4 linked regions of the Homo sapiens genome follow. The protein of the gene in region 1 purifies or fractionates together with the protein of each later gene. This does not show direct contact. Each region holds a gene or a part of one and is shown on either strand. Other genes may lie near its edges. The genes, in order: SQOR, TMED5, FAM174A and CTDSP2.

What was found.
Region 2: the proteins of SQOR (region 1) and TMED5 purify together in Homo sapiens (co-immunoprecipitation; one large-scale study listed by IntAct). This does not show direct contact.
Region 3: the proteins of SQOR (region 1) and FAM174A purify together in Homo sapiens (co-immunoprecipitation; one large-scale study listed by IntAct). This does not show direct contact.
Region 4: the proteins of SQOR (region 1) and CTDSP2 purify together in Homo sapiens (co-immunoprecipitation; one large-scale study listed by IntAct). This does not show direct contact.

What each region holds. Positions count from the first base shown.
Region 1 is NC_000015.10:45,672,234-45,677,595, reverse strand, and holds part of SQOR (sulfide:quinone oxidoreductase, mitochondrial), read right to left. Parts: intron 3,990-5,362; coding exon 3,795-3,989; intron 1,496-3,794; coding exon 1,286-1,495; intron 1-1,285. UniProt on the Homo sapiens protein: Catalyzes the oxidation of hydrogen sulfide with the help of a quinone, such as ubiquinone-10, giving rise to thiosulfate and ultimately to sulfane (molecular sulfur) atoms.
Region 2 is NC_000001.11:93,169,319-93,174,680, forward strand, and holds part of TMED5 (transmembrane emp24 domain-containing protein 5 isoform 1 precursor), read right to left. Parts: intron 1-5,362. UniProt on the Homo sapiens protein: Potential role in vesicular protein trafficking, mainly in the early secretory pathway. Required for the maintenance of the Golgi apparatus; involved in protein exchange between Golgi stacks during assembly.
Region 3 is NC_000005.10:100,562,196-100,567,557, reverse strand, and holds part of FAM174A (membrane protein FAM174A precursor), read right to left. Parts: intron 1-5,362.
Region 4 is NC_000012.12:57,838,925-57,844,286, reverse strand, and holds part of CTDSP2 (carboxy-terminal domain RNA polymerase II polypeptide A small phosphatase 2), read left to right. Parts: intron 1-525; exon of another isoform or gene 526-2,028; intron 2,029-5,362. UniProt on the Homo sapiens protein: Preferentially catalyzes the dephosphorylation of 'Ser-5' within the tandem 7 residue repeats in the C-terminal domain (CTD) of the largest RNA polymerase II subunit POLR2A.

The sequences.
Region 1 (5,362 bases):
TCAAAATATCAACGTCATAGAAGACAAAGAAAAGCTATAGAAACATCACAGATTAAAGGAGGCTAAATAGACCTCACAATTGAATGTAATACCTGACTGTAGCCTGAGTCCTGCACTGGAGGAAAAAATGCTACAAACACAGTTGGGCCAATCAACTAAATTGGAATACAAATAGTAAGTTAAAAAATTGTATCTGTGCTAAATTTCCTGAGTTGATAATGGTACTGTGGTTATGTAAGAGAACACTTCTATTTTAGAAAATTAACACTAAAGTATTTGGGGCTAAAGAGAGCTGATGCATGATATATGTAAATTTCCTTGGAAAAACTAGATATGGATGGATAGATAGATAGACAAAGGCAGATAGAAGAAAGAGAGAAAGAAAGAAAGGAAAGAAGGAAGGAAGGAAGGAAGGAAGAAATCAAATGATAAAGCTAAAGCAAATGGTAAAATTCTACAAGTGAATCTAGGTAAAAGCTACATACAATTTTCTTTGTACTATTTTTATTTTGTAACTTCTCTAAGTTTGAGATTATTTCTTTTTTTTTTTTTTTTTAGACGGAGTCTCACTCTGTCACCCAGGCTGGAGTGCAGTGGTACAATCTCGGCTCACTGCAGCCTCCGCCTTCTGGGTTCCAGCGATTCTCCTGCCTCAGCCTCCCGGGTAGCTGGGATTACAGGGATGTGCCACCACGCCCAGCTAATTTTTGTATTTTTAGTAGAGATGGGGCTTCACCATGTTGGCCAGCCTGGTCTCGAACTCCTGACCTCAAGTGATCCACCTGCCTTGGCCTTCCAAAGTGCTGGGATTACAGGCGTGAGCCACCATGCCCAGCCAATCCCTGTTTTCTTCAACTACCCACAGGGTTACTTCCTGCTCACAAGCAGGACTGTTTCTCACATGCCACCAATTGAGACAATCACCAGATCTTGCATTCGAGGAAGCCCTCCCTTACCTCTACACAGTAACCAAAGTTGTGGAATATTTTTGGCTACCTCAAGTGACTCGATGCCAGGAAAAGTTGAGTCAAAGGAATAGGACAAAAATTCACTTGGCACCAGCTAACGACACCTTCTCACCTCCCACTGACACAGCCTCTTACATCTTTCTCTTCCCCAACCATTTTGGCCTACCTTCTTGCCCTAACACTTCCCTAAGATGCTCATTTCACCCAGTCTTCCCCAGCACACAATGATGGCAGATAGGGTGGTGTGAGCCCCCATGTATCTATGGCACGTTTCAGCAGACAACGCTTCATGCTGACAGCTTAGCCTCACCACTCACTGAAATCACTTGGGTCTCTCCTGGTTTGTCCAGGTTCTCAAATACAGCCTCTTGTTTATCGGCTCGGACTTCAATGAGGTTTTTCTTGTAGTTAACAGTGAGGTTCCGCTCCTGGATGATCTCCTGCAGGGCATCTGCATACTTCTTAACCCCGAAAATGGCTCCAAGAGAAGTGTTGAAAATGATATTGGCCTTGGATCGCTTCCCTGTCTGAGAAAAATAAGAAAACCATTCACACCAAAGCATGACTGCAGCTGCCTTTTTTTTTTTTAATCCAGACAAGAATTAAAACCCTCAGCAGGGACCTTGCTAGCTTTTGCCACCATTATGTCCTGGCAGAGCAATGGGTAGACCAATCCACTGCCTCCTCCTTATGTTCTGCCCATGACATACAACTAAGTACACACTTGAGTTGGGGGCTGAGGTGGGCACTGTCCAGCTGAAGGCCAGAGGTGAAGGTTAGGTCCAGGTCAAGACAGAGTAGAGTAGAACGGAATGTTTATTCATATATTCATGTATTCATTTACTCAATAAATATTTAACAAAGTTCTAGAGTTGGCCAGATACTGTCCTAGGTGCTGAGGGAACAGCAGTGAGCAAAACTGAGTTCCAGCCAGGCGCAGTACCTCACACCTGTAATCCTAGCACTTTGGGAGGCCGAGGCAGGCAGATCACCTGACGTCAGGAGTTCCAGACCAGCCTGGCCAACATGGTTTGAGACAAGCCTGTCTCTACCAAAAATATAAAAATTAGCTGGGCATGGTGACAGGCGCCTGTAATCCCAGCTACTCAGGAGGCTGAGGCAGGAGAATGGCTTGAACCCAGGAAGCGGAGTTTGCAGGGAGCTGAGATTGCACCATTGCACTCCAGCCTGGGTGACAGAGCAAAATTCTGTCTCCAAAAAAAAAAAATAAACAAACTAAAAAACAGTAACAACAAAACCCTGAGTTCCTACCTTCTTGATATTGTTCAGAGAGGCCAATATTCTCCCAAATGCCTAAGATCAGAGAGGCCAATATTCTCCCAAATGCCTAAGATCTTATGGTACTCGAACCTTCCTCGTAGGCCATCTAAGACTTGGGAGAAAAGAGTTACACAAAGAAGTTTCCAGGACGGAAGAAACAGCTGGTTTCTTCTTCTTTCCTTTGCTCGGCTCCTTTCATGATTTGCTCACCCGGATCTCACCATTTGAAGAATTCAGGTGGGTAAGTGTCTCAAAAGGCTGTGCCAGCCCTTTATGACCCAGAATGAACTTTCTTGGGGTCAGAAATGATTACTGGAACTGCCTTTAATTCCCTACCTCACAGGGTTGTTGCAGTTTACAGAGCTCAGGGGAAGGTCTTGATCAGTCCCAGCCTCCATGAGCACATTCAACCACTCCCCAGCCCGTTCTTCCCCACCCTTCTTCCCATCTGTCCCCATACACGACTAGCTGCTAGAAATCCTGCCACTGTCTCAAGCCAAACCGCACTTTGGTAAACTAAATGTCAAACCCCAGGCAAGAGCAGGGAGGGCAAGAACAGCTTCCCTTACAAGCTTAAGCCAGGTGTACTTGAGCTGCAGACAACTGCTCTTACACAGAGAGCATTTGGAGAATGCTGAGAAAGTCTCCTCCTGCCCAAATATCTCTTTTCATGAAGGTTTAAAGTTCTATGAGAACATTTTTTTGCTTTTTAAATTGGCATTTTCCGTATCATATTTTTTTAATGTATACCCAAGGGACAGAAAATATTCATGACCTTAAACTTGAGTGGAAGTAGTGGATAGCATTATGGATAAAAATGAACAATCTGCAACTAATTGTCTAACTATATGGAAATATTTAAACAGTCTCTAACATATCTCTCCAGTAGACTTTTTTTTTTTTTTTAAGACGGAGCTTCGCTCTTGTTGCCCAGGCTGGAGTGCAATGGCACAATCTTGGCTCACCACAACCTCCGCCTCCCAGGTTCGAGCAATTCTCCTGTCTCAGCCTCCCCAGTAGCTGGAATTACAGGCATGCACCACCACGCCCAGCTAATTTTTTTTGTATTTTTAGTAGAGACGGGATTTCTCCATGTTGGTCAGGCTGGTCTTGAACTCCTAACCTCAGGTGATCCACCCACCTTGGCCTCCCAAAGTGCTGGGATTAGAGGCGAGAGCCACCACACCCAGCATCCAGTAGACTTTTACACACACATTTAAAAAGTATGTAACAAAGACTATTTAATATTACATAATACAGCTAAATTTTTCATGTACACTATGACTGTAACCATATTTAAGTATACAGAAAAAAAGCTGGAAAGCCATGTCAAATTGAAAACTGCAGCTTTATTAAAGCAATTGGATCATGAGTGATTTTCTCCTCTTTTATATTTTATAAACTTCCAGTTAACTAATTTTGTACACATGTAATAAAAATTCCGAGATAAAAAAGGGATTACAATAGAGATAAAATGGAATTCTTGCAATCAGTGAATTAGCACTGTCCGCCCTGCTCATCTCTGTCCCCAGAAAGGAAGCATACCTTCCTGAAGTAGGCTTCTGATAAGTACATGATCTTCTGAGGGGCTCCAGCACACTTCACTGGAGTATTTGGGAAGGTGAAGATGGCATTGCCCTCTTTGAAGTCCTGCAGAGCTTTCCATGTCTTCTCTACAGTCTTAACTGAATAATTCGACCCTATTTTGGGATGAGCGAAACCTTCAGGTAGGCCTTTAATCTGCAACAAAGTACACAAAAATTATTTTAAACAAAAGTGCAAATGTCTTTAGAGTCCTTGTTCTTTGCCATTTCTACAACCTTTCAAATATTTCAGTACTATCATTACCCTCCAATACCCACATGCCTAGAGCAGGCAGGTGGGTGAGGGTTCTAAGACCAGAGCTGTGGCACCTGTAGTCACCTGTCAAACTGCAGAATGGGCTCAGCTCAGAGGAACCCTTCAACTCCCTGGCCTTGAGAATACAATTTGAATACAACTTTTCCCACCATCGGAGTGAGGACAAGACGCCAGCCAGCCTTCCTTTTAGGAGACCCAGTTGCCTCACTGGAAAGAACAACTGGCAGGACCAAGAGCCATTTATATCATCAAGAATAGCAAACTTAAATCACTCTTTATCAGGTTGTACCAGACCAAACTCTAGATAAAGGCACTAAAGCCAGGTGCCTAAAAACATGGACTTTAGGATCCCACATACCAGTTTGAGTCCTGGCTCTTCCACTTACTAGCATTGTGACCCTGTGTAAATTACCTAATACTTCTAAGCCAGTAGGTCTCCAAGTGTGGTGCTCAGACCAGCAGCACAAGCACCACCTGGGAACTTGCTAGAAATGCAGATTATCAGGCCCCACCCTAGACCTACTGAATCAGAAACTGGGAGCAGGCCCAGCAATCTGTGTTTTAACAAGCCCTCCAGCTGATTCAGATGCACACTCAGGTTTGAGAATCCTAACGTTCACCATCTGTGAAATGGGGATAAGGTATCTGCTTCACAGGGTTGTAGGCAGAAGCAAATGAGGCCATGCATGTACAGGACACATGCACATGGCAAATGTCCTGTAAATGTTAGCTGATTATTGCCAATAAGATCAACTAGACACCTATTATAAATGTTAGAAGGCTCGTAGAGTGCAATGAAGATGTCACAGACTGAGTTAAAGAGACTTAAGCCTCAGTTCTCAGCAAGAGCAGGTTCAACTTCAATCATCAAGAAACAGTCATCAAGATGGCCTGGTCCTTCAGAGCCTCCCCAGCCCATTCTCTGGGCCACCTCCAAAGTCACTCCAGACACTTATCCCTGAGGTCTCAAGGAAACAGAGTCCTCTCATCTCCTCAGTGGCCTGAGTTCATTACTTATCACACTCAATGTTAAAAGCAACTATTTGTTACTGTTCACCCCTGTTACAGTTAGATAGTAGTAACATTGGCAGTCTCAATAATAATATCATTATTATTATAAAATCACCTTGCATTTAAATGTTTTCAAAGTTTCACATCAATGCTAACAATGGATATTCACTATGTACTTCTGAGGGAGGCAGGGGAATATTAACCCCTAGAATGGATGGAGCCCTGCCCAGAATCTTAAAGAA
Region 2 (5,362 bases), on another chromosome or scaffold:
TCATGGGACAAAGAAGTCTCAAGATAAAATTTTTTTTAACTTCAATGAAATGAAAATACAACCTAACAAAAATTTGTGGGATACAGAGAAATCAGTGCCTAGAGGGAAATTTATAACATTGGATGAACTTATTAGAAAAGAAGAAAGATGTAAAATCAATAATGTAGACATCCACCTTAGGAAGCCAGAGAAAGAACAGTAATACAAACCTAAAACAACCAGAAGAAAAACATTAGAGCAGAAATCAAGAAAATTGATAACAAGAAATCAACGCAGAAAAAAAAAAATCAATGAAGCAAAAAACTGGTTTTTTAAAAAGATCAATAAAACTAACAAACCTCTAGTCAGGCAAACCAAGAAAAAAAAGAGAAAAGACACAGAACACTAATATCAGAAATAAAAGCTGGGTCATCATTAATTATCTATGGACATTAAAAAGATAATAATGGCCAGGCGTGGTGGCCAATGCCTGTAATCTCAGCACTTTGGGAGGCTGAGATGGGAGGATCACTTGAAGCCAGGAGTTTGAGACTAGCCTAGGCAGCAAAGTGAGACCCTGTCTGTACACACACACACACACACACACACACACACACACACAAAATTAGGCAGGCATGGTGGTGCATGCCTCCCTAGCTACTTGGGAGGCTGAGGTGAGAGGATCACTTGAGCCCAGAAGTTCAAGGCTGCTGTGAGGTATGATCGTGCCACTGAACTCCAGCCTGGGTGATGGCAAGACTCCATCTTAAAAAATATAAATAAAAGGATAATAGTGGTGAGAGGTGACAGCATGCTGGCAGCCCTGGCTCGCTCTCAGCGCCTCCTTGGCCTTGGCGCCCACTCTGGCCACGCCTGAGGAGCCCTTCAGCCCGCCGCTGCACTGTGGGAGCCCCTTTCTGGGCTGGCCAAGGCCGCAGCCGGCTCCCTCAGCTTGCCGGGAGGTGTGGAGGGAGAGGCGCGGGTGGGAACTGGGGCTGCGCGTGATGCTTGCGGGCCAGCTCGAGTTCCGGGTGGGCGTGGGCTCCGCGGCCCCGCACTGGGAGCGGCCGGCCGGCCTGCAAGCCCTGGGCAGTGAGAAGCTTAGCACCTGGGCCAGCAGCTGCTGTGCTCGATTTCTCGCAGGACCTTAGCTGCCTCCCCGCGGGGCAGGGCTTGGGACCTGCAGCCCGCCATGCCTGAGCCTCCCCTCAGCCCCCCACTGTGGGCTCCTGCGCGGCCCAAGCCTCCCCGAAGAGCGCCACTCCCTGCTCCACGGCACCCAGTCCCATCAACCGCCCAAGGGCTGAGGAGTGCAGGCGCACGGCATGGGACTGGCAGGCAGCTCCACCTGCGGCCCAGGTGCGGGATCCACTGGGTGAAGCCAGCTGGGGTCCTGAGTCTGGTGGGGACTTGGAGAATCTTTATGTCTAGCTAAGGGATTTTAAATACACCAATCAGCACTCTGTGTCTAGCTCAGGGTTTGTAAATACACCAATCCACACTCTCTGTATCTAGCTAATCTAGTGGAAAACTTTTGTTGTCTAGCTCAGGGATTGTAAACACATCAATCAGCACCCTGTCAAAACAGACCAATCAGCTCTCTGTAAAACAGACCAATCAGCTCTCTGTAAAATGGACCAATCAGCGAAATGTGGGTGGGGCCAGATAAGAGAATTAAAGCAGGCTGCCTCAGCCAGCAGTGGCAACCTGCTGGGGTCCCCTTGTACACTGTGGAAGCTTTGTTCTCTTGCTCTTTGCAATAAATCTTGCTGCTGCTCACTCTTTGGGTTCACACTGCCTTTATGAGCTGTAACACTCACCACGAAGGTCTGCAGCTTCACTCCTGAAGCCAGCGAGACCACAAACCCACCAGGAGGAACGAACAACTCCAGACACGCCACCTTAAGAGCTGTAACTCTCACTGCAAAGGTCTGCAGCTTCACTCCTGAGCCAGCGAGACCACAAACCCACCAGAAGGAAGAAACTCCGAACACATCCGAACATCAGAAGGAACAAACTCCGGACACGCTGCCTTTAAGAACTGTAACACTCACCGCGAGGGTCCGCGGCTTCATTCTTGAAGTCAGTGAGACCAAGAACCCGCCAATTCCGGACACAGTGGAACATTATTAATAAATCTATACCCACAAATTTGAAAACTTAGATGAAACAGGCCAATTCCTTGAAAGATATAAAGTACCAAAACTCATACAAGAAATAGATAACCTGAATAGGCCTGTATCTGTTACAGAAATTATACTGATAATTAATAACCTCCCCCAAAAGAAAGGACCAGGACCAGACAGTTTCAATGGTGAATCCTACCAAACATTTATGGACAAAATGAAACCAATTCTCTAAAATCTCTTACAGACAATAAAGGCTGAGGGAACAATTCTTTACTCATTCTGTGAGGCCAACATTACCCTAATTCTAAAACCAGAAAAGACATTACAAGAAATGGAAACTACATACCAGTATCTCTTAGGAACACAGATGCAAAAATCTTCAACAAAATATTAGCAAAGCTGATTCGACAATGTAAACAAAGAATTACAACCATGACCAGATGGATTTGTTCCAAGTATATAAGCCTGGCTCAACATTCATGAATTATTTTGTGTAATTCATCACATCAACAGGCTAAGGAAGAAAACTCAGATGATCACAGCAATGGGTATGGAAAACATATTTGATAAAATCCAATATCAATCCATGATATTTAATATTAAAAAAATCTTAGCAAACTAGGAATAGAGGGGAACTTCCTCAACTTAAGAACATTTACAAAAATCCTACAGCTAAGATCACACTTAATGGCGAGAAACTAGAAGCTTTCTCACTAAAATCAGAAACAAGACAAAGATGCTACTCCCTCATTACTCCTACTCAGCACTATACTGGAAGCTCGAGCTAATGTAATACAACAAGAAAGGGAAAGAAAAGACATACCTATTGGAAAAGAAGAAATAAAACTGTCCTTGTGATAGTCCATGTAGAAATCCTAAAGAACTGCCAAAAAAAAACCCGTCCCGGAACTAATAAGTGATGATAGCCAAGTCTCAGTATACAATATTAACATACAATAGTCAACTGCTTTCCTATACACCAGCAACAAGCAACTGGAGTTGGGAATAAAAAATACAATACCATTTACGTTAGCACTAAAAGAAAAAAAAAGAAAAAAAGAATTAGGTACAAATCTACCAAAATATGTACAAGATCTATAATCCCAGTAATCCCAGCTACTCAGGAGGCTGAGATGGGAGGATCCTGAGCCCAGGAGTTTGAGACCAGCGGAGTTACACAGCAAGACCTCATCTCAAAAAAGAAAAAACAAATTAGTACATTGTTGGTGGGAATGTAAATTAGTACAGCCCTATGGAAAACAATATGGTGGTTCCTCAAAAAACCACAAATACAACTACCATATCATCTAGTAATCTCACTTCTGGTATACATCCAAAGGAACTGAAATCAGTATGTAAAAGAGATATCTGCACTCCCATATTCATTGAAGCATTATTCACAATAGTCAAGACATAGAAACAACCTAAGTGTCCATTAATGAATGAATAAAGAAAATGTGGTATAGATACACAATGGAATACTGGAGGACATTACACTAAGTGAAATAAGCCAGGGACAGAAAGACAAATACTGCATTATCTCATATGTGGAATTCCTAGAATTCCATACAGTTCCATTCCTAAAAGTGGAGAGTAGAACGATGGTTACCAGAAGCTGGGGGTGGGGGACTTGGGGAGAGAGGGAATAGGGAGCTGTTGATCACAGAGTACAAAGTTTCTGATAGACAGAAGGAATAGGTTTTGAGATCTATTGCACAGGAAGGTGACTATGGTCAATAATAATGTATATTTCAAAATAACTGAGACTGAATTTCAAATAGCTCATCATAAAAAATTATAGGCAAGGCAATGTTAATTAGCCTGATTTAATCATTACATGTTGTATATATGTATCAAAACATCACGCTATACCGCATAAATGTATACAATTATAATTTGCCAATCAAAAATAATACTGATAATAAATTTTTAAAGCTAATGATGTAGAAGATAGAGCTGAAGAAATTATCCATAAAATAGGAGAGTGAGACAAAGAGAGAAATTATGAGAGATTAAGAAGCTTGGATGATCCACTTAAACTGCAGTGAAAATGCAGAAGCAGAAAATTTAAAAAGCTACAAGAGAAAATAGAGATGAACTACAAATATATAACAAACTGACAGGAAGCTTCAACAGCTATAATCGAAGTCAGAAGACAATAAAATACTAGTTTTGATGCATTTAGGAAAAATATCTGTCAGTGAAGAATTCTTTAAGTAATTCAATTCTTTAAGAAAAGTCAAGAGAGCAGAGCCGTAAGAACCAGAGGAAAACAAATTAAGCCTGAAATCAGTCCTATTCAGACTTCCAGTTATATGAACCAATAGACTTCCTTATTAAAAACTGATTTGGTTTGTTTACCTATTGGTAAAAACTTTGTAAGGACTTAAAGACCATGACATTTTAATTAAATAATCATATGTGTTTCACCCCATCAAACCCTATATGTTTTTATGAGTATGGGAAAAGGTGTGGAAGAGTTCACATCTAGGAGAATGACAACAGGCATTCAATAGAGTTACAAAGAGGTTTTTTTTTGTTTTTTTTTTGAGATGGAGTCTCACTCTGTCACCCAGGCTGGAGTGCAGCAGCACGATCTCGGCTCACTGCAATCTCTGCTTTCCGGGTTCAAGTGATTCTCCTGCCTCAGCCTCCCGAGTAGCTGGGACTACAGGCGCGCACCACTGCGCCCAGCTAATTTTTGTTTTTTGTTTTTTCTTTTTTTTTAAGAGATGGTGTTTCACCATGTTGGTCAGGCTGGTCTCCAACTCCTGACCTCGTGATCCACCCACTTTGGCCTCCCAAAATGCTGGGATTACAGGTGTGAGCCACCGCACCCAGCTTTTTTTGCTTTTACATCTTTGTATTGTTTGACTTACTCTAAGGAGGTTGTATATTACTTTTATAATTGGAAGTAAAAAAATTCATAAAGGAGACAGGTGTGGTGGCATGTGCCTGTAGTCCCAGCTACCCAGGAGGCTGGTTGAAGTGGGAGTATCACTTGTGCCCAAATTCAAATTCAGCCTAGGCAACATAGTGAGACCCCATATCTCTCTTTTTTTTAACTTTTATTTTAGGCTTGGGGATACATGTGAAGGTTACATAGGTAAACGTGTTAAAAACCACAATTATTTTTGCACCAACTTAGTATTTCATCACCCAGATATAAAGCCCAGTACCCAATAGTTAACTTTTCTGTGCCTCTCTGTCCTTCCACCCTCCCTCCTCAAGTAAATCCCAGTGTCTGTTGTTTC
Region 3 (5,362 bases), on another chromosome or scaffold:
AGTTTAAAATTATTTCCAGACAAAAATAATTTTTAAAAAAGTAACGCATGAATATATGCTCCTCGAAGAAAAAAATCAGATAGATATAGAAGGAAAACTGAAGATGAAAAATAAACTGTTAACCTCTCTAACTCATCTTTTCCCCACTGGCAGTCAAACTTCACAAAGTCAGATTTTTTTGTTTTGTTTTGTTTTGTTCTGCTCTCTAATGTATCTCAAACACATAGACCAGTGCTTGGCAAATAGATAGCTGCTACATCATTCATTTGTTAGATAAATTAATGAATAGGTAAATAGTAATGTGCTGTTCCTGTCACTTTATTTAGATATATATTAAAGAAGTTTTGCCTTATTTATTAAGTAAATTGGGTCAGATTACTAAATAACTCAAGATGATTTCATTCTTATCCCTGAAACATGCTTTACCATTATTATAACCAATTCTTGTTCTTTCACTTTCGAAACAGGACCTACATCTTGGTTAAGATGGTAATTAAGGAAGGTAATTAATACCTTCCAAAGCTGCTTAAATAATTCACTCCTCTCTGCCTTTCCTGCTGTAACTGTAATGCAAGTCATCCCATGCATTTGCACCATCTAACTACTTTTCTTCTTTGTCACCTTACTCTTTATCGTGGTCTCCTTCAACCCATGCAGTCAGGGTAATCTTCAAAACGTAACTTTGTAATCAAAGTTTCCCTTGTCTTAAAATTTTCAAAATGACTTTTTATGGTCTATAGAATTGATGATTAGCATAGATTACAACTGTTTCATGAACTTTTTATTTCTCCATCTTTACTGAGGTATAATTGGTAAATAAAAATTGGATATGCTTAAGGTGTTTACCTTAATGTTATGATGTTATGATGTGCATGATGTGCATATACTACGTGAAACAATCACTGCAATCATGCTAATCAACATATCCATCACCTCTTGAGATTAACATATTTTTGTGTGTATCAAGAACACTTAACATCTACCCTCCTAGCAAACTTAAAAGTATACACTACTGTATTGTATTGTTAACTATATTCACATTGCTGTACAAGTTATTCATCTTGCATAGCTTATTCATCTTGCATAAATGAACTTACTCATTTTGCATAACTAAAATTTTGGATCCCTTGACTAACATCTTCCTGTTTTCCCTTCTCTGCAGCCCCTGTTAACCCCTACTCTATTCACTACTATAAGCTTGACTATTTAGATTCCATATATAAGTGAGATAATGCAATATCTGTCTTTCTATGTTTGGATTGTTTCAAATAACATAAATTCCTCCATGTTCATCCATGTTGTTGCAAATGTCCAGATTTTCTTTTTTTTAAGGCTGAATAATATTCAATAGTATATCATACATGTAATTATATATATTATATGTACATATATATATATATATATATATATATATATCATACTTTTCAAATTCATTTATCTGTTGATATGGTTTGGCTGTGCCCCCACCTAAATCTCATCTTGAATTGTAGCTCCCTTAATCCTCAGGTATCATGGAAGGAACCTGGTGGGAGGTAATTGAAACACAGGGGCAAGTTTTTCCCATGCTGTTCTTATGATATTGAATAAGTCTCATGAAATCTGATGGTTTTATAAAGGGTGGTTCCCCTACACATGCTCTCTTGCCTGCCATCATGTAAGATGTGCCTTTGCTCCTCCTTTGCCTACTGCCATGATTGTGAGGCCTCCCTAGCCATGCAGAATTGTGAGTCCATTAAACCTCTTTTTCTTTATAAATTACCCAGTCTCCGATATTTCTTCCAAGCAGTATGAAAACGGACTAATACATCTGTCAATGCACATTTAGGTTATTTCCACAGCTTGATTAATATGAATAATGCTGCAGTGAACATGGGAGTGCAGATCTCTCTATGTAATAATGGTTTCCTTTGGATATATATCCAGCAGCAAAACTGCTAAATCATAAGGTAATTATATTTTTAATTTATTGAGGAATTTCTGTACTGCTTTCCATAACAGCTGTGCCAACTTACATTCCCACCAACAGAGTACAGGGGTCATGTGCCCATTTTAAAATCAGATTATGTGAGATTTTTGGCTATTAACTTACATGCACTCCTTATAAATTTTGGATATTAACTCATATATATATGTATATACATATATGGTTTATAAATATTTTGTCCCATTATTAAAGTTCCTTTTCACTCTGATGATTATCTACTTGGCTGTGCAGAAGCATTTTAGTTTGATGCAACCTCATTTGTCTATGTGGATAGCACTGTCAAATGCTTTTTCTGTGTCTACTGAAATGATCTTGTGGCTTTTTTTCTTTCAACCTATTAATGTGTTCTATTGCATTGATTTGCATGTGTTGAAAGATATTTGCATTCCAGGGACAAATCCCACTTAATCATGGTGTATCATCATTTTAATATGCTGCTGAATTTGGGTAACTAGCATTTTATTGAGGACTTTTGTATCATGTTCATCAGGAGTATTGGCCTGCGGTTTGCTTTCCTTCGTCTGGCTTTGGTATCAGGATAACACTAGCCTCATAAAATGAGTTTTAAAGTGCTTCTTCTTCTATTTGTCAGAATAATTTGAGAAGGACGAGTATTAATTCTTCTTTAAATGTCTGGTATAATTTACCCATGAAGCCATATGGTCTTGGACATTTCTTTGTTGGAAGGTTTTGACTACTGATTCAATTTCCTTATTTGTTACTTGTCTGTTTGGACTTCGAATTTCTTTTTGATTCAAGTTTCATAGATTGTATGTTTCTAGGAATTTATCTATTTTTCTAGGTTATCAAATTTGTTGGCATATAATTGTTCATAGTAGTCTCATGTCTTCTTTAATTTCTGAGGTACCCATTGTAATTTCTTCTCTTTTATTTCTGATTTTATTTATTTGAGCCTTTTCTTTTTTGCTTAGTCTAGCTAATGGTTTATTGATTTTATCTTTTCTATACGCAAAATCTTAATTTTATTGATTTTTCTCATTGTCTTTTTCAACTCTATTTAATGTATTTCTATTATAATCTTAATTATTTCCCTCGTTCTGCTAATTTTAGGCTTAGGCTTAAAGTGTTTTTCTTTTGCCACTTTCTGAAAGGGTAAAGCTAGGTTGTTTATTTGAAGTCTTTCTTCTTTCATAGCATAAGCATTTATTGCTATAAACTTCTCTCCTAGCAATGCTTTTGCTGCATCCCATAAGTTTTGTTATGCCATTTTTTTTTTGTCTCAAAATAGCTCTTAAAATTCCCTTTGATTTCCTATTTGACCCAATAATTGCTCAAGAGTGTGTTGTTCAGTGTATTAGTCCATTCTTTCATTGCTATAAAGACATACCTGAGACTGGGTAATTTATAAAGAAAAGAGGTTTAATTGGCTCGTGGTTCTGCAGACTATACAAGCATGGTGCTGACATCTGCTTGGCTTCTGAGCATATATCAGGGAGCTTTTACTCATGGTGCAAGGTGAAATGGGATCAGGTACTTCAAACGGCAAATATAGGAGCAAGGAGGAGCAGGTGCTACACACTTAAAACAACCACATTTTGCAAGAACTCACTATCACAAGGACAGCACCAAGCCATGAGGGATCAGTCCCCATGACCCAAACATCTCTGACCAGGCTTCAATTTCAGCATGGAGGGTTACAATTGACATGAGATTTGGCCTGGAGGTTTATTCAAACTATATCGTTTAGTTTCCACATATTTATAATTTTTCCTGTTTTCCTGCTGTTATTGATTTCTATTTCTATTCCATGGAGGTTGGAAAAGACACTTGGAATAATTTCAATCTTCTTAAAGTTGTTAAGACTTGTTTTGTGACCTAAGATGATTTATCTCAGAGTGCATCCCATGGGCACTTGAGAAGAATGTGAATTCTTCTGCTGTTGGGTGCAAAGTTCTGTATATGTCTGTCAGGTCCACTGGTCTACAGTGTTGTTTAAGTCAGAGGTTTCTTTATTGATTTTCTGTCTAGATAGTCTATTCATTATTGTAAGTGGGATATTAAAGTCCCATAAATTATTTTATGGCTGTCAATTTCCTACTTCAGATCTGTCAATATTTGCTTTATAATTTAGGTGCTCTGATAGAGTCATACTAATTGTCATATCTTCCTGGTGAATTGACTCCTTTACTATGTAATGATCTTTTTTTTTTTTGTCTCAAGAGATAGTTTTTGACTTAAAATCTAATTTGTCTGATATAAATTTAGCAACCCCTGCTTTGTTTTGGTTACCATTTGCATGGAATATCAGTTTCTGTCCCTTTTCTTTCATCTTATATGCGTCTTTAATTGAAAGTGAGTGCCTGAAGAACAGATGCAATTGTTTTGTTCATGTTTGCCTATTCAGGCTGTAATACTATTAAAATGTATAATTCATGAACATATTTGTATTAAATGAACAAATTATCAGCATTACTAAAAGTTCCTTTGTGTGTGTGCATATATATAAACAGCTTAGATAGATAGATGGATAGACATATATAGATATAAATATAGATATACAGGACTTAGTAGTCCAATTTTTGTTGAGTCATCTTCTTTTCTGTAATCCTAAGATTTCTGTTTTCTTTGCATTTGTACCTGACTCTGGACTCTAATTCTCCTTCACCCAAGTAATCCCTCTGGATTCCAAGATGTCTTTCCTTATTAGGTTGAATCTTTGTTGGCTTTTTTCCCCATTCTATTTACATTGGCATTTATTCTATACTCATGTCATTTTATTTATCTAAACCTCTTAGGAAAGGTCTTAACACTTACTGAGAATAGATCTCAGTATATATATTACAGCTACATGATCAGACCATAAACAATTAGTCCCCCAATTCTGCAAGGCAGCACTATTTACAAACACTAGAACCCAAACTAAAAAGAAAATATCTTCAGAATACAAAAAGGAAATTAAATTTAATAAGTATTTCTCTCTCACACACACACACACAAACACACACGCACACAAACACACATGCACACACACACCCAAGTTAATACATATTGCAAGAATGAAGAAGTTAATGGGTCCTAGGCTTAATAACTGGGTGATGAAATAATCTGTACGACAAAACCACATGACACAAGTTTACCTATGTAACGACCCTGCACTTGTACCCCTGAACTTAAAATAAAAGATAAAAACAGAAGAATAAATTAAAAAAAATATTTTGAGATGGTATTCTATTGTTTGTATCTATTTGAGCAAAACAACGTGAATGTGAGCTATGGGGTAGATAGCAAAAAGAACTTCAGTAAACAGAACTGAAGAAACTGTGTTGGAATATAAGCTGTTAAATGAAAGTCTACTTTACTTCTTCAGTTTACTTGGCAAGGACTTGCTTCCTGATTCATGGAATTAAACTACTGGAA
Region 4 (5,362 bases), on another chromosome or scaffold:
TCTTGGAGTTAATGTTTCTCCTTTTTTGTGTGTGTGGTTTAAGCCAGCAGCCACTGGGTCTCTCCCTCCCCATGTAATTTTTTATTTTAATTGAGATGGAGTCTTACTCTGTTGCCCAGGCTAGAGTGCAGTGGCGCAATCTCAGCTCACTGCAACCTCCGCCTCCTAAATTCAAGCAATTCTCCTGCCTCAGCCTCCCAAGTAGCTGGGATTACAGGCGCGCGCCATCACGCTTGGCTAATTTTTTTGTATTTTTTAGTAGAGACAGGGGTTTCGCCAGTTGCCCAGGCTGGTCTCGACTCCTGAGGTGATCAGCCCCCTTCGGCCTCCCAAAGTGCTGGGATTACAGGCGTGAGCCACCGCGCCCGGCCCCTCCCCATGTAATTTGATTGCATTCCAGAGAAGACAGACTTTCTTCCTGGGCTGCTTAGGCACCCAGCAACCACTAAACCAACTTTCTGAGTCCCACATCATTTACAAACAAAACCTACGTCTTCAAAACAAAACAAAAAACAAAAGCTGGGGGACTGGGGAAGCAGATGTTTTAATTGGCTCCTTTTGGAGTTCCTTCTTCTCCCCACTCCGTCCTCTCCACAACATCCCATCTCCATGCCTTGCCTGCCTTTGGAAAAAGGGGAAGAAGGAGTGTGAGGTACTTATTATTAATAAGTAAATTTCTGGAAAGAAACAAATTGCTCCTAGCTTGGGTGGCTATTTAGTGAAGTTACTTGCCATTGCGGGTTTTTTTTTTCTTTTTTTAGCATTCTGTTCTCTGAGGTTTAAGGCTGTCTGGGTGCGTTGATGATTCAAAAGTAATTACAGTAGGGGAAGTAGAACAAAGTTGCTGAAAGCATTGATGATAAAAGCACCAAAATTGGATCATCTTCCCAGACAGATGGGTGAAATGGCTTTCTGGTACAGCAAGGACAGGATTGTGTGTAACATCAAAAAGAAAAAAGAAATGTTAATATCAGCTTGGCAAGAATGGCTGTTGATTGCAGCTCTATATGAGATTGTCACCCCATTGCTAAGAGGTTGTGACCTTGGCTTTGGGATTAGATGGGGGAAAGCCAAGGAAACAAGACCCACGCTGTAACCTCCCAACGTGAAATGAGACCTGGTGGAGGCAGCCTCTTCCGGAGCTCAGTGACCCACACGCCTTTTGGAGGAATCAGAGATTTTTTTGTTGTCCATGAATCCTGATGCCCCTTCCTCTCGATGATGCCCTGGATTACCTTCTCACATGCCGAACTGGACAGGTTCTGATAGCTAATTGCAAGGATTCTTCTGAGAGACTGACCATCTCTGAAAATTACGATGTGGCAAGTTTTCAGGATGGCTAGCTCTTTTGTTATCCGCATAAGGGAGAAATTCTGCCTTATTCCCTCAAAAAGTTGTTCAGACACCGTTCACTGTAGATGTAGGCAAGCCTTTAACTTGAAAAGCTTAGACATGAATCTTGCTGGAGCTTCCTTCCATAGCTTGCTATGCAGGGGGCGGGAAGCCTGCATGTTTATAGCTGGCTCCTCCTCCTGCCCTGCTGGTGCCTCTCACCTTCCTTTGCCTACCCTGGGTCTTGGCCTCTTTGTGCTCTCACAGTGACTGCTGAGGCTCCCTCCTGCATCTCCTTTGGAGTTTTTCCCCCATCTTTGGGTAAGGGTTGCAGCCTGCGTGGTGACTTAAGCTTGTGTTTGCTCCTGTCCCCAAAATTGCAGAGGAGCGCTGATAAATCAGCAACAAAGTTTGTAAATGCCTAACATCTGGGGCTGGGGGTTTGCAGTTGACTTGCAGAGCTTTCCACTGAGCAGCACTGGAATTGCTGTGAAAAATCCCTCGGAGGATGGCAGAGGTGGGGGTGTTCCTTTGTCCTCTCTTCTCAACCGTAGAGGTCTTAAAGAAACTGGGTAGCAGAGAGGTGTCATTTCATCCTTTCCATGGGACCTTCCAAATCCCTTATCATGGATTTTGTTAAAATGGTAAATACTAAAGAAGTCACATTTCTAGCCAACGTGAATTGATGCTCCCAACCTGTGAAGAATTAAAGTGTTTGTAAATAAGCATGGAAAAGAAAGACAATATGTAAATATATATGGGATTGTGTGTATGTGTGTACATATCAATACATAGCTTCCCTTCCAATTCCTCCTACAATTTTTTTTTTCTGCTAGCTTTTGGGTAATTTGGGGTATTGTCTTTTATTCCCATCATGGTAAGTTTGGTTCTTAGATTGGACAGAGTGGGGACCAGGGTCAGGGATGGTGGTTAAAGTTTACATTGTTACTTCAAAGCATTGTTTCTGAAGCAAAATTGCTTCAGGCCTGGGTTCAAATACCTTCTTTTCCTATTTGCAATGAGACTTGATAAATCACTTTAGTATTCTGAGTAACTTATCTATAAAGTAGTAATAATGATATCTACCCTTCTATTATACTTGGTACTTAGTAGGTGCTTGATAAATATTAATGTCCTCCCTCTTTACATAGTTAGACTACTCTGTTCGCCCTCCTCCATTCCCCCAAGGACACAGTGTAAACAGCACGTAGTCTTGTGGGTTTTATTTTTCAAGACAGGTGGCCGGGGGTCAGAGGGGACACTGATTGTGGGGGCTTGGGCCTTCTGGAAGGATCAACCTCTTAGGCTTACAAACAGCCTTGCTGCACAGACCCCTTCTTTGTGTCATGTGACTTGGGATGTGATTTGTTATCTGCCTGGGCTGTGGGACTTTGGCCATTCTGTCTGGTGCCTGGGCATCTGGGGGTGGGAGAAGGCCAGGCATGTGCCCCCTGTGAGTCTCTAAAGTCTAAACTTCCTTAGAGGTTCTCAAATATGGATATAACGAATATTCAGGACAACTGTATGCTACATTCTCTCACTGTCTGCTTTGAGAGTTAATGAATTCAGAGAGATTGAGGTTTCTTTTAGGTAATTTTAATAAGAGGGGGAAAAAGAAAATGGGGTTTGAAGAGAAATAGATGTTCTTAAGCTATTTGTTTGCTCCTGTGGTTTTGGGGTACAACATTGAGAAAGTACAAAAGCAGCATTGATCTGCTTTTCATCTTGTCTTAGTCTGGCCAGCTCTGGGAAGCATGGAATTAACTCGCTTGTCTTTGGGACGTGGGATTGGGTGTGGCCCTGACATATTTCCCTCACTTTTCTGAAATGGAGTAGTAGTTCTGAACTGGGATGCAGATGAGCACATTAACACGCAAATCTTACAAAGAAAGTACTAGAAATTAAAGTGGATAAGTTGACGACTTAAAACTGGAAGCATCTCTGGACCAGAGACCAAATAGAATGGAGTTTCTTTGTCTGGCAAAATGCCCAGCCCTTCAGGTCTGAGTATGCCTGCACCAGGATCTGTTATCACAGGGTACTCCAGTGAGCGCCACAGCCTCCCTCTAGGCAAAAGTGTGTATGCCCTGTTTTATGTTAGCTATTCTAGGAGTTAGCCTTGAACCTGATCTCTGAGTGGATCTGACATTTCCATTTCCCTCCTAGGTGCTCTAGTCCTTCCCCCACCCCCATCCCCCCAAATCAGACTTTGCTCTTACTCTCTTTTTATTCTATACCTTCTTTTATTTCTTGCCACAGCTTTTTCCATCCTCTTGAATTTGCACTTTCCCATCTGCATTGTTCCCAGGGAACAAATATGGCCCCAATCCCAGTGAGAGCCAAGCAGACTCATGGAAAGGCTCAAATTGCCTGCGGAAGGCTTCCTGGATAGTAGATCCCAGCTTTTCTGTTCCCGCAGCAGAATAGAGCTAGGACCCCTCTTTCACAGGAACAGGGGCCTGCAGGTAGAGACAGCAGACCCAGGTTTTCTGACTCACGTCACATAGAACTACCCCTAGAGAAGAAAACTGGATCCTAGGCATGAGTCCTCTAAGGCTTGCAGAAACACTGAGCCAGTCAGGTACGGTGGGGAGAGGGGCCAAGGGGACTTTGGCTGAATTGCCTTCTAGCCCTGGGTTAGTCAGAGACCCTGGCAACCGGTAGATACTGGCTCTCAGCCAGGGACACACATCAGAGTCTCCTGTGACACTTGCTAAAAATACAGACCCCCCACCTGGGATCTGCTGAATCAGCGCATGGGCAGGTGGGTCAGGCATGCATGTGTTCCAAATGCTCCTTGTGGCTCTGACAGGTGCCCCTGGAGAAGAGCCAGGTAGGCACAGCAGTGGCCCCAACTGCCTGTTTTGCCCCGAGCAGGAAAATTCCTCTTGGTGGTCCCGTTTTACTGTATGTTAAAGATCTGTGGCTCTTCAAGGGGAGTCCTAAAGTTTTCAGAGTAAATGGACAGAGTAATGATCCATCCTTGTTTACCCAGTAATGGTTACAGCCAATATTTATAGAGTACTTGCCATAGGCAAGGTACTATTCCTAGCATTTTATATCTCGTATCTCACTTAGTTCTCCTGACAACTTTTCCTTTCCAATAAGAGGAATTAACCTCACTTTACAGATAAGGAAAACTTTCACAGGGAGAGGGAAGGACTTTGCCCAAGGGTACATGGCTAGTGTCAGCCAGACATTTGCATTGTCTGGCATTTCACTTTTTTTTTTGAGATGGAGTCTTGCTCTGTCGCCCAGGCTGGAGTGCAGTGGCGCGATCTCGATCTCAGCTCACTGCAAGCTCCACCTCCTGGGTCTATGCCATTCTCCTGGCTCAGCCTCCTGAGTAGCTGGGACTACAGGCGCCCGCCACCACGCCCGGCTAATTTTTTGTATTTTTAGTAGAGACGCGGTTTCACTGTGTTAGCCAGGATGGTCTTGATCTCCTGACCTCATGATCCGCCCGCCTTGGCCTCCCAAAGTGCTGGGATTACAGGCTTGAGCCACCGTGCCCGGCCTAACATTTCACCTTTTAGAGTGCTTTTGAGTTCATGATTCAGGTGCATGCTTCAGGTGAAGCCACCTTTTAAGGGACCATGCAGGGGAAACCTTTCCAGATTGGCTTATGAGGAAACTGAACCCCAGAGAATTGTGCCCTAGCAAGGCCACGGAACTGTTGAAAAGCTGAACTGGAGCAAGAGCTGGGTTTCCTGACTTCTAGATCAGTACTTTCTCAAGTGGACTCACCTATACGGCTTGGCTGGTCATAGGTGAAGCTGAGGGGTGTGGGGGGAGCAGCAGAATGTCCCTGGAGATGGGTGCCTCCCTGGCAGACTCCTTCCATTCCTTCTGCAGAGGCCAGCCATATGAAGGAGGAACTGGTTGGCCAGCCTCAATGAGTGTGTATGTGTGTGTGCGACTGATTCGTTTTTGTGGAGTCCCGGAAAACATCATTTCCGGTTTGGCCCTGTTACTACCTCTGAAATGAGTTAGAAGAAATCTCTATGGTCCCTTTAATGTGAACATTTTG